Regions from separate parts of the Homo sapiens genome. Here all the other regions are linked to region 2. The links come from fine-mapping of genetic effects on gene expression. A gene starts in region 2. Each other region holds a variant in brackets. All regions are shown on one strand. Distances are between the middles of the regions. Region 1 overlaps EEF2K (eukaryotic elongation factor 2 kinase). Region 2 holds the start of EEF2K (eukaryotic elongation factor 2 kinase). Region 3 overlaps EEF2K (eukaryotic elongation factor 2 kinase).

Region 1 (4,196 bases), 34 kb before region 2:
ATTCCCATGAGCTGTTCCAAGATCTTGTGGGATGCAGGAAAATTCATCGTGCAGAACAGCCCTGTTTCAGGGTTGCTGGCATTCCCGGCCTTCCCTAACTCTATGCCAGCAGTGCCCACCACCCCATCATTATGATGGCCCAAAAGAACTCCCAAATCTATCAAAACCTATTGAGAGTAGCCAGGCATGGTGGCTCACGCCTGTAATCCCAGCACTTTGGGAGGCCGAGGCAGATGGATCATCCAAGGTCAGGAGCTCGAGACCAGCCTGGCCAACGTGGTGAAACCCCGTCTCTACTTTAAAAAAAAAAAAAGCTGGGTGCATACGTGTAATCCCAGATACTCGGGAGGCTGAGGCAGGAAAATCGCTTGAACCAGGAGGTGGAGGTTGCAGTGAATGGAGATCAGGCCACTGCACTCCAGCCTGGGTGACAGAGCAAGACTCTGTACCCAAAAAAAAGAGTCCAGCTTCCCAAGGACTCAGCCCAAACAGGGCTTCACCTCATCCCCAGCACTGGGTCCTGCTCAAAATAGAAGCAGCTCAGGCAGTGGAGCTGGGCCTTCCAATACACACACACAGAGCCCAGGCCTCTCACTCTCTCTAGGGCTTTCTTTTGTTTTTGGGTTTTTGTTTTGTTTTTTAAATAGGAATAAGGTCTCTCTCTGTTGTCCAGGCTACGTGGTGGTAGTGTGATCATAGCTCTCTGCAACCTCAAAACTCCTGGGCTCAAGCGATCTTCCTGCCTCAGCCTCCTGAGTAGCTGGGACTACACTTGTGTGTCACCATGCCCAGCTAATTTTTTTATTTTTATTTTTATTTTGCAGAGACCGGGTTGCACTACGTTTGTTGCCCAGGCTGGTCTCGAACTCCTGGCCTCAAGTGATCCTCCTGCCTCAACCTCCCAAGGAACTAGGATTACAGAGATGAGCTGCTGCACCTAGCCTGCTGGGGCTTTTTTACCTCTGCAGAGTTCAAAAAATAAAGCCTGTAATTCTTTTCTTCTATTTTGGTAGCTAATTTAGACTTAATTTAAAAGTTGGAGAATACAGAAGACAAAAGTCAAATCCACCATATACCATCCACTGGAGCAATGCCGTAGACTAATTCTTTTCCAGATCTTCTATATGTTTTTTTTTTTTTTTTTTTTTTTTTTGAGACAGTCTCCCTCTGTCACCCAGGCTAAAGTGCAGTGGGGTGATCTCAGCTCACTGCAACCTCCTGGGTTCAAGCAATTTTCCTGCCTCAGCCTCCTGAGTAGCTGGGATTACAGGCGTGAGCCAACATGCCTGGCTAATTTTTGTATTTTTAGTAGAGACGGGGTTTCACCATGTTGGCCAGGCTAGTCTCGAACTCCTGACCTCAGGTGATCCACCCGCCTTGGCCTCCCAAAGTGCTGGGATTACAGGCGTGGCCACCTTGCCCGGCCTACATGCATTTTTTAATAAGATTGGTATCATACCATAAAATATAATTCACCTCCTTACAGAAGAGTGGGTCAATGGGATTTTGTGCTTTATTTAGTGATCTCAATTTTTTTTTCTGATTCCAAAGTATGATCCACATCACATAAAAACTGCAAGCACTATAGAACTCTGAATT[A/T]GAAAGCGGAAGTCCTCCCTAATCCACTTCCTCTGAAAACCACAGCTGACAGTTGATGTAGACATTCTGCAAAATTTTTTCCTATGCCTCTGTGAACATAAACACATATTTAAGAGCAGTTTAGGCCGGGCGCGGTGGCTCACACCTGTAATCCCAGCACTTTGGGAGGCTGAGGCAGGCAGATCACAAGGTCAGGAGTTTGATACCAGCCTGGCCAACATGGTAAAACCCTGTCACTACTAAAAATACAAAAATTAGCCGGGCATGGTGGCACGAGCCTGTAATCCCAGCTACTTGGGAGGCTGAGGCAGGAGAATCGCTTGAACCCAGGAGGCGGAGGTTGCAGTGAGGCAAGAGAGCACAACTACACTCCAGCCTGGGCGACACAGTGAGACTCCATCTCAAAAAAATAAAAATAAAACAAAATAAAAAGAAAGAGCAATTGGACCACACCACATGTTCTGTTGTGCATCTGACTTTTCTTAATGTAAGATCTTGGACATCTTTCCATGTCATATGTGCAGACTGGCTGGGGTAACCTCCTTTCATTTCCAGAACTACCAGATATATAATTATATAAATGTACCTTAAGGTATTTGCCTAACCTCCAATTGAATAATGTTTGGGTTCCCTCCAACATTTCCTAGTACAAACAGTGCTGAAGTGAACATCTTCCTATCCAAATCTTGGGCGCTTGTGCAAGATCTCAGTAGTACATATTTTTTGGGAAATGTAACTGCTGGATCACATTTAAAATCTAGAAATGACTGAGTTCTCTGCCAAAAAATTTATCCCAAGTTATACTCCAAGAAGCAGTAAACAAATCACTAAAATTCTTTTGGCACAGACAGTACATCAGATAACTATAAAATTTATAAGTTATTTGCATCCTGCTTTAATAGTTGCATAATAATCTACTGTATAACTTTTTTGTTATTGACTTGATTATTCACCTGTTGCTCTCCACTGTTAGACTTCAAGCTTGTCACTGATTGCTCCCTGTTGTAAATAACCCCACAGCAGACATGTGTATGTCTAAAACATTTTTCTGAATTTCGGTCCCTGTACCTTTTTTTTTTTTTTTTTTTTGAGATGGAGTCTGGCTCTGTCACCAGGCTGGAGTGAAGTGGCATGATCTCGGCTCACTGCAACCTCTGCCTCCTGGGTTCAAGCGATTCTCCTGCCTCAGCCTCCTGAGCAGCTGGGACTACAGGCTTGCGCCACCACGCCCAGCTAATTATTGTATTTTTAGTAGAGACAGGGTTTCACCATGTTGGCCAGGATGGTCTCGATCTCTTGACCTTGTGATCCGCCTGCCTCGGCCTCCCAAAGTGCTGGGATTACAGGCATGAGCCTGGCCCCTGTACTTTTTCTCTTAAAGAGACAGGGTCTTGCTCTGTCACTCAGGCTGGAATGCAGTGGCATGATCACAGCTCACCGCAGCCTCAAACTCCTGGGTTCAAGTGATCCTCCTGCTTCAGCTTCCCGAATAGCTGGGATGACAGGCGCTTGCCATCATGCCTGGCTAATTTTTTAAATTTCTGTACAGACAGGATCTCGGTATGTTGCCCAGGCTGTTCTCAAACTTCTGGGCTCAAGTGATCCTCCTGCCTTGTCCTTCCAAAGCACTGGGATTACAGGCATGAGCCACCACGCCCAGCCCAATCCCCGTAACTTAAAGCACCAGTCTCAGCTCATATTCCGGCTGCTACAAATGGCAGGGACAGCCTTCGACCTCCACCTGTCAGGAGAGCCTGCAGGGTTGAGAATTCAGCAGGCCACCCTTCCAAGCATGTCTGTACAGGTGCCCTGTTCTCTGTCTACGACACACAATTCTCTGACAGTGCCTCTCTCAAACGACTCCGCCACTCCGTAAGCCACTAACAGGGACCGTCCCCATTCAGTGAAGATTAGCAACAGAAATTACCTCCTGGCTGGATGCCGTGGCACCAACCACAAAACAGGGAGGAAAGTACTGCAGAATTAGAGGGTGTGGTATTTCATAGAATAAAAATTACCTTTTTTCCAAACCCAGAACAGAGTCATGCCAGACCTTATTGGCAACAGGTGGGATTAATGCAACTGACTTTTTTTTTTTTAATAAGCACAGTATAAAAAGTACTGTACTAACATTCATGTCCCTGACTCTGGTTCCAGCTTACTGACTGGCTGTGGGAACCTCCATTTCCTTGTTTACAAACAAGGATGAAGAAGGTTTTGGCTGCTGGTGGTCCACTTTTTTGTGGCCCCTGCACCCAGGGTAGACACACTCCCACCAAAAACAGTGGCTCACTGGGGTGGCAGTGCTTATTATGGGTGACTCCTGCTGGAGCTACAAATCACCAGTAATGTTACCATCAGGTGGGGAATGGAAGCAGGTACTGCCATCTTTGAGAGCCACCTGGCAGTGGCTATGAACCTTCTTCTGCACCGACTTCTGACCCAGCCATTCCTATCACCTACCCAGGTGTGTCCAGGTAAGCTGGTCCAAGGATGATCAGTGCTTTTTTTTTTTTTTTTTTTCCTTTTTTCTTTTTTTTTGAGACCAGGTATTTATTACTTTGTTGCCTAGGCTGAAGTGCAGTGGTGGGATCATA
Region 2 (4,196 bases):
AGTTACAAAAAGCACAAGAAAAACAAATTGGTGGATCTTTTTTATTTTTTGAGACAGAGTCTCGCTTTGTTGCCCAGTCTAGAGTGCAGTGGTGCAATCTCAGCTCCCTGCAAACTATACCTCCTGGGTTCAAACGATTCTCGATTCTCCTGCCTCAGCCTCCCGAGTAGCTGGGATTACAGGCTCATGCCAACATGCCCAGCTAATTTTTGTATTTTTAGTAGAGATGGGGGCTCCCTATGTTGGCCAGGCTGGTCTCAAACTCCTGACCTCAAGTGATCCACCTTCCTCAGTCTCCCAAAGTACTGAGATTAAAGGCCTGAGCCACCACGCCCCTGGCCCAAAACACCGGTAGCTCTTGGAATGTACACCGATGATTATGTGTAAACTGTGACCACTTCAGTTCTGTCTTCTGGCCTCCCCATTCCCTGCAGAGGATAAGAACTTCGGACCCCACCCCCTTCTTTGAGAATGGGGGCTGAGAGGAGGGCGGACGCCAATCCCAGCCATGTTACACTGAAATTCATGTCCTTGAGAGGTTTTACTGTAGTTGTTGAATTAATAGCTGAACAAAGGAATGAACATCGGGTGCTGTGGAGGCCACACAGAAGGAAGACACCTGCATACGCCATCTCTGAACTCTACCTCCTTCCACCTGCCTCTTCCCCAGCTCAGCTTAAACAGCACTTGCTACAGGAAGCCTTCCCCCATAACCCTCTCCCCTTTACACACACAGTGGGCATTCTCAGCTCCCACCTGCTTGCTCTGTATTCCCATTTACTCCATCTCGCTTTTTAGAATCTGTTTATGTGACTGGCTTCCTCTTAGGGAGCTTCTGTGGGCCTGGGGATCACTCTGACCCTCGGTTTCCTCCTCGCTAAAAACATTAGGATAGACTACGTGACTCAATTCGCTGTGACTTCACAGCCTGTCCAGGGCCCTCAACCACAGGGCTCTTGGCCATCAGATGTCTCCCGGGGCCATAGACTATGACACTGTGTGCCAGGCACTGTTCCAAGCACCTGACATATACATACTCATCTACTCTTTCCAAGGATACTAAGTGGTAGATACTAATACTGTACCCATTTTACCGATGAGAAAACCGAGGGCCAGAGAGCATAAATGAGCTAGAATTCCAACCCAGGACTCCAGCCCTAGTGTTTCCTGCTTTCCTGGCTGAAGAAGCACCCACCACCGAGGTCCCAGAGGTCGGGCTCCCTGGGACCGTCCCCCTGGGCAGATCTCACTTCCCCATGCGGCCCATCTGTCACACTCAGGGCGCAGCTGGGCTGGTTCCCCGAAATCCCCCAGGCGCGCGCAAAAGGATCTAGGCCGGGGCTTACCCGGGAGGCCCCCACCCCCGCGCGGCCACCGGCTTATTAATGCCCAGCCCCTTGGCACACATGTCAGCAGCGCCTGCCAACAAACTCCCGCAGCCAACAATGCAGCAAGGGCGCGTCTATACAGTCCTGGAGGTTCCGGGAATTCGGGCTGACGCAGGCCTCTAGTTCAGGGGAAAGGTGGGGGATGCGGCTCTGAGCCCTGCAGGGGACAGGAAGGCAGCGATGCGCCCACACTCTAGGGGCCCCGAGGGGGGAGGCCCCCAAACTCTCTGTCACTTGCAGCCAGATCACCGCCCATTGCTTGCCAATTGCTTTCCATATCCACATCGCCTTTAATCCGCACAACTTCCCCATTTCTCCAAAGCAAGCACTTAGCCCCAGAGAGTTTAACAACCAGAGGAGAAGCGCCCCCACACTCTCCTTCCATGCCTTCTCCGGCCCCATTCCCAAGCCCAGACCCAGCACGCTCCAGACGCCAGCTGCACCCGGGCGCACAGGCCTGCAGCGCGGGCTCCCAGCCCCCCACAGCCTTGCCGGCCGCGGTCCACACCTACCTCCCTCGGGCAGACAGGCGCGGCAGCCGCTGCCCACGGCCGCGAGGGTCCAGAGGAGTTGGCAGAGGCTCGCGGCCCGGAGCTCCAGGGTGCAGGGCGGGCGGGCCCCCCGAGAGTGCCGGGGAGCGGAGAGCGGGGAGCGCTAGCTGGCGCTCCGGGCAAGCAGCTGGGGCCACGCGGGGTAGATGGACCGATCCCAGGGCGCGCGGGGCAGTCGGAGTGATCCCAGGAAGGGCGCAGGGGCCGTTGGGACGATCCCGGGATGTGGGAGCGCGTGCCAGGGGGGACTCGCGTGCAGGCGACAGCGAGCGGGACTCGGGTGGCTGCAGGGCCGGGAGTGCGGGCGCTCGATCCAGGAAGGAGGGGAGCTGAGGCTGAAGCTGGGGCTGGTCTAGGTTGAGCAGAAGCGGGCGGGCAGGGGCGGGGCTGGCCTGGCGGGCGCACGGCGTGGCGCTCACGTGGCCGCCCCCAGGTGGCCATCACAGCGCCTGCAGCCGCCTAGCGGGCCTCCTGGCTCCGGCGCTGGCTCCCAGCCCCAGGTGCAATGGTTAGCGCTAAGTCTTGGCTCCCCCTGCTGAGTACACAGTGTCCGGTTCTCCTGCTCAAGGCTGGCCTAGCATCCGGCAGCGAGGGGGCAATTCGAGGGAGTGACCAACTTCCGTCCTCTCCCGCCGCGCCTCGCCATTCTCGCCTGCTTCTCGCTTAGTTCCTGTATTCCTGTCCTTTCCAAAATCATTAGTGATCCAAGCCCATCGCTTGTTTGTATGTATCTCTATCCATAACCTTAAAATATTTTTTATCGGAAATACTTTGTTTTTCCTGATTTCTGCTTTGTAAAAACAGGCACGTATGACGATTGCAATTATTTGTGTAGTTTTAAAATTAGTATCTCCTTTAGTTATTCCTAACTCTTGACACAGGGCCTGGGTGGCACACAGTAGATGCTTAATAAATACCTGTGGCATGAGTGGTAGAGTGGCTAAGGTATAAAAAAGAAAACGAATTAAAACTAATAGCTACTGTGAACACTTTAATATTAGGTCCTTCCAGATACTTTGTTAGTGAAATTTTAGAAATTTCACACATTCTAGATAGAAAAGTAGTAACAATGACATGTTTTGAGGGATTTCTCTCATTCCATCTTCCCAGCACTTTGGGAGGCCGAGGCCGGCAGATCACCTGAGGTCAGGAGTTCGAGACCAGCCTGGCCAAAACGGTAAAACCCTGTCTTTAGTAAAAATACAAAAAAGCAGCCGGGCGCGCCTGTAGTCCCAGCTACTCTGGAGGCTGAGGCACGAGAATCGCTTGAACCCTGGAGGCAGAGGTTGCAGTGAGCCGAGATCGCGCCACTACACTCCAGCCTGGGTGAAGGAATGAGACTCCGTCGCAAAAAAACAAAAACAAAAAAATAAAAAAGAAAAAAGAACAAAACTGAGGCTTATAGAGATAATGACATGCCCCAGGTGAGGCAGCTAGAAAAGGCAGAGCCAGCAGTAAATCCAGACTTCTCTGATTTCAAAGTTCAGGCTCTCCAAAGAACTTTTTTCCTTATTTATAAACCCCAAAGAGAGTAAACTCCAGCTTTTGGCAAGACAAAATTGCACCTGGAATTCTGACCCTGGGGCCGTCAGGCAGGAAGGGAAGATCAAAGATGCTGAACTAGTCTGTCCAAGCCCAAAGCAAGATTGGAAAAAAAAAAAAGACGCTACTGCTTAAAGCTCTATGGCCCTTGGGCAAGTTATTTTACTTCTCTGAGCCTCTGTCATTTTTGTCTGCCCAGCAGGAGTGTCCTTCTTTGCATTAGCGTCTTGGTTAGTCTTCAGGGAACCAGTTCACCCTATTTCAGTTCAGGAAAATAGCCCTCCCCACTCCCCTGGCTCCAAAAATGGACACATGACCAGACCTGGCCAATTAGCATATTTCATCCCTTCAGCCTCATTGATTGGTTCAGGGATGAGCATGTGATCCAAGTTAGGCCAGTGAAATACTAATCTGGGCCTTTTATAGTAACCATAAAAAGAGAATGTCTCTTTTCCAGGGAGTTGAGCAGATAGGATGTAATAGTAGAGTTTCTGAGCATTAATTCTTATGGCAAATTTTATTAAGCTCCTATTGTGTGCCAAATATGGTGCTAGGAATTGGGGGAAACATTTGCCTTCAAGGAGATGTCTACTGCGGTAAAATAAAATTACTCAAGGCCGGGCAAGGTGGCTCACACATGTAATGTCAGAGCTTTGGGAGGCCAAGGCAGGAGGATCAATGGGGCCAGGAGTTCAAAACCATCCTGGGCAACATA
Region 3 (4,196 bases), 84 kb before region 2:
CTTACAGTCCAGCAGCCCCTTACACAGTTTTCTCATGACAATCAGACATGAAATCAATGAGCAAGAGATGCAGAATGTTGCATCAGAACCCCTGGACCTACAAGGTCTCAGCAGCGGGATGCCTGACAAGGGAGGGATGGGCTGAAACTCCGACTATTCTTTGTGTGCCTGTCCCTATATCATAAACACTAGGCTGTGGATAGTGGAAATGGGTGTGGGGTCTCAGTCCTGGATCCCCTCCATTCTTTCCTCCCTTGCTCCCATAAAAGGAAAATGCTCTCAAACCTGGCCTGAGACCATATCTTTCTGTAAGAACCTCCTTCTGGAAAGAAACTAGCATTTCTGATAAATGCTCGAGCATTGAGCATTTTTCTTTTGAAATTTAAGAGCATTGAGATTTACACTGGGAAACTAGCTTTCTACTCACTCAGTTGATGGTCATTTGTCAGTCAAGAGTGCAGTGACCTTTAACGGAACATTCTTTTCTTTTCTATTTTGTCTAACAGTGATTATCTAATCATTTTCTTCTCCTAGAAAATGTCTCTATCAAGATAGAGGTCAGAAGAGTGGCCAACATTTTTCGGGGTGGAGAGAGGGTGTATTGCCTGGGAAGGGGTCCAGGGGGGCTTCTGTAGGCCTGCAAATGTTCTAATATCTTGAATTGGGTTGTTAAGACACAGATGTGTACAAATGTAAAAATTCATCAACCTGTATACTTAAGAGCGTGCAGTTTAATCTACATAGGCAGACTGTAATAAAAAATAAATTTTTAGAAAATGTCCCTACCAAGTATAAATCTTTGAATTCCCAGTGGGTTTACACTTGCAGCAAGACTGTGATTTTTTTTTTTTAAGATATGGGCTTTCACTGTGTTGACCAGGATGGTCTTGAACTCCTGGCCTCAAGCAATCCTCCCATCTTGGCCTCCCAAAGTGCCAGGGTTACAGGTGTGAGCCACCACGCCCGGTCAAGACTGTAATAAAATTTTGACGTATGCTGTAACAAAACCAACAGAAAAGTTTTCTTTATTAACTTCTCTCTAATCTTTTTTTTTTTTTTTGAAATGGAGTCTCATTCTGTCACCCAGGCTGGAGTACAGTGGTGTGATCTCGGCTGACTGCAACCTCTGCCTCCTGGGCTCAAGTGATTCTCCCGCCTCAGCCTGGCTAATTTTTATATTTTTAGTAGAGATGGTGTTTCACCATGTTGGCCAGGCTGGGCTCTAACTCCTGACCTCAAGTGATCTGCCCACCACAGCCTCCCAAAGTGCTGGGATTACAGGTGTGAGCCACGGTGCCAGGCCTCCTCGTGCCAATTTCTCAGCCTTGCAGGACTTGTTCAGCAATGAAAATTGGGTTTTTCTCAGATTTCTCTACTGCTGATCTAGGATCCAGACTTCTTGGGTCTGTTAATTCAATTACAGTCTACCTACTTTCCAGCACCCAAAACTTGCTGTTCAATCCTCTTTCTCTTCATCCTCACCGGCTTATGCTATTTAAAAACAAACAAACAAACAAAAAAACAAACAAAAGAATCCACTTCCTGTCATTGCAGTGGGGATTTAGGAACAAGTGGACCTAAATATGTATGTTCAACCTACCATGCATAGTTATACTAATGTTCAAATTTCTTAAAATTAAAAAAAATTAGCTTAAAACCAAAAGATCAACTGGTAACCAAGATTTTCTTAAGCTTGGAATTAAAAAAGCACTTTAGGCTGGGCGTGGTGGCTCACACCTGTAATCCCAGCACTTTGGGAGGCCAAGGTGAGTAGATCACCTGAAGCCAGGAGTTTGATACCAGCCTGGCCAACATGGTGAAACCCTGCCTCTACTAAAAATACAGAAATTAGCCAGGCATGGTGGTGTGCGCCTGTACTGCCATGCCAGCTACTAGGGAGGTCGAGGCGGGAGAATCGCTTGAACCCGGGAGGCGGAGGTTGCAGTGAGTTGAGATCGCACCACTGCACTCCAGCCCGGGTGACAGAATGAGACCCCATCTTAAAATAAATAAATAAAAATAAAAAAAA[AC/C]ACTTTACCATGTATTATCTTCTCTGAAGCTTACAACTCTGTAATGGTAAAAATTATTCTTCAGGCCGGGCACGGTGGCTCACGCCTGCAATTCCAGCAGTTTGGGAGGCCAAGGCCGGTGCATTGCTTGAGCCCAGGAGTTCGAGACCAGCCTGGGCATGATGGCAAAACCCTGTCTCCACTGGAAGAAAGGAAAAAACAAGATGAAACACAACCTGCCCCCCTTCAAAATTAGCCGGGCGCGGTGGTGCTCACCTGTAGTCCCAGCTACTCGTGAGGAGGCTGAGGTGGGAGGATAACTTGAACCTCGGAGGCAGAGGCTGCAGTGAGCCAAGATCTTGCCACTGCACTCTAGCCTGGGCAACAGAGTGAGACTGTCTGAAAAACAAACAGAAAAACTCTATGTTTTATAGATGAGCAAATGAAGAAACGAGAGGTTCTAATACTTTCTCTAAAGCAAACTGACAGCAGACGAGCCAAATCTGGAAGGCTTTGAAAAGTTATTAGAATTTATTACAAATGTTAAAGAACAGAAGGCCTTGCATTAAAAAAAAAAAAGTTTTCAGCAGCTCTTGAAAAATTGGAAAATAGGGTAACATTGAGCCCGCGCTTCCCATGGTGGCAATCATTTGAAGTTGAATCATGGCTGCCCCTTTCAGATGGGGTATGAGCCTTCTCGTTGACCCCTGCCTGCAGCAGCTTTATTTATTTATTTATTTATTTATTTATTTATTTGAGACAGTCTTGCTCTGTCGCCGAGGCTGGAGTGCAGCGGCGTGATCTCAGCTCACTGCAAGCTCCACCTCCCGGGTTCACGCCTTTCTCCTGCCTCAGCCTCTCGAGTAGCTGGGACTACAGGCGCCTGCCACCACGCCCAGCTTTTTTTTTTTTTTTTTTTTAATGTATTTTTAGTAGAGACGGGGTTTCACCATGTCAGTCAGGATGGTCTCGATCTACTGACCTTGTGATCCGCCTGCCTCAGCCTCCCAAAGTGCTGGGATTACAGGCGTGAGCCACCGCACCCGATCCCCCACCTTTTTTTTTTGAGATGGAGTTTCGCTCTTGTTGCCCAGGCTGGGGTGCAATGACAGGATCTGGGCTCACTGCAACCTCCATCTTCCGGCTTTAAGCAATTCTCCTGTCTCAGCCTCCTGAGCAGATGGGACTACAGGTGTGCGCCACCATGCCCGGCCAATTTTTGTATTTTTAGTACAGACAGGGTTTCATCATGTTGGCCAGGCTGGTCTGGAACTCTTGACCTCAGGTGATCCCGCCCGCCTCGGCCTCCCAAAGTGCTGGGATTACAGGCGTGAGGCACCACGCCTGGCCATTTTTTTTTTTTTTCCAAACCAGGAGACATTTGAGTCTGAGACAGAAAAGAAAGAAAACACTTTATTTGTAAAGAGAAAATGGAACTTAGTACATATGCCAAAATAAATCTGTAACGCAGGCCACTTCTCTGGGCCCCATCTTGAGTAGGTTAAAGGGTCACCTTAGAGACTAGAAACACAATTAAGAGGCACAAATCCACACAGAAAATATGCATATTTTGTCTCCTTTCCCCCCAAAACAAGCTGCATATACTTGTGTAAACTTGTTGATTTGTAAAACATGTCTAGTACTGCAGACAAATGTGTGGGATGAAAGGAAATAAAAGCCATGAAAACAGGGCCAGGTGCAGTGGCTCACGCCTGTAACCCCAATGCTTTGGGAGGCTGAGGTGGGAGGATCACTTGAGGCCAAGGAGTTCAAGACCAGCCTGGGCAACATAGTGAAACTCTGTCTCTGCAAAAAATAATTTTAAAAAATTAGCCAGGCGTGGCTTGGCACGGTGGCTCATGCCTGTAATCCCAGCACTTTGGGAGGCCGAGGCAGGTGGATCACCTAATGTCAGGAGTTTGAAACCAGCCTGGCCAACATGGTGAAACCCCCGTCTCTACTAAAAATACAAACATTAGCTGCGCGTGGTGGCAGGTGCCTGTAGTCCCAGCTACTCGGGAGGCCGAGACAGGGAGAATCGCTTGAACCTGGGAGGCAGAGGTTGCAGTGAGCCAAAACGTGCCATTGCACTTGAATCTGGGCAACAGAGCGAGACTCCACCTCAAAAAAAAAAAAAAAAAAATTAGCCAGATGTGATGGTGCACATCTGTAGTTTTAGCTACTTGA

What was found. PIP is the estimated chance that this variant, and not a neighbour inherited with it, causes the effect.
Region 1: its variant is the best candidate, but not a certain one, in a credible set for the expression of EEF2K in whole blood (INTERVAL, PIP 0.89).
Region 3: its variant is the best candidate, but not a certain one, in a credible set for the expression of EEF2K in T cells (TOPMed, PIP 0.62).

Annotation. Positions count from the first base shown.
Region 1 is chr16:22,238,594-22,242,789 of GRCh38, reverse strand. The region is part of intron 2 of EEF2K (eukaryotic elongation factor 2 kinase); the gene reads right to left. Among named protein-coding and RNA genes, the nearest start is that of EEF2K, 34 kb to the right of the region's middle. The variant A/T (reference allele first, on the strand shown) is at 1,600.
Region 2 is chr16:22,204,384-22,208,579 of GRCh38, reverse strand. EEF2K (eukaryotic elongation factor 2 kinase) reads right to left here and starts at 2,302. Exons shown (of 18, transcript NM_013302.5): 1 at 1,901-2,302. RefSeq lists silencers at 1,802-2,071, 2,232-2,531.
Region 3 is chr16:22,287,945-22,292,140 of GRCh38, reverse strand. EEF2K (eukaryotic elongation factor 2 kinase) reads right to left here. Exons shown (of 18, transcript NM_013302.5): 18 at 3,403-4,196. Among named protein-coding and RNA genes, the nearest start is that of TRL-AAG2-4, 7.1 kb to the left of the region's middle. The variant AC/C (reference allele first, on the strand shown) is at 2,030.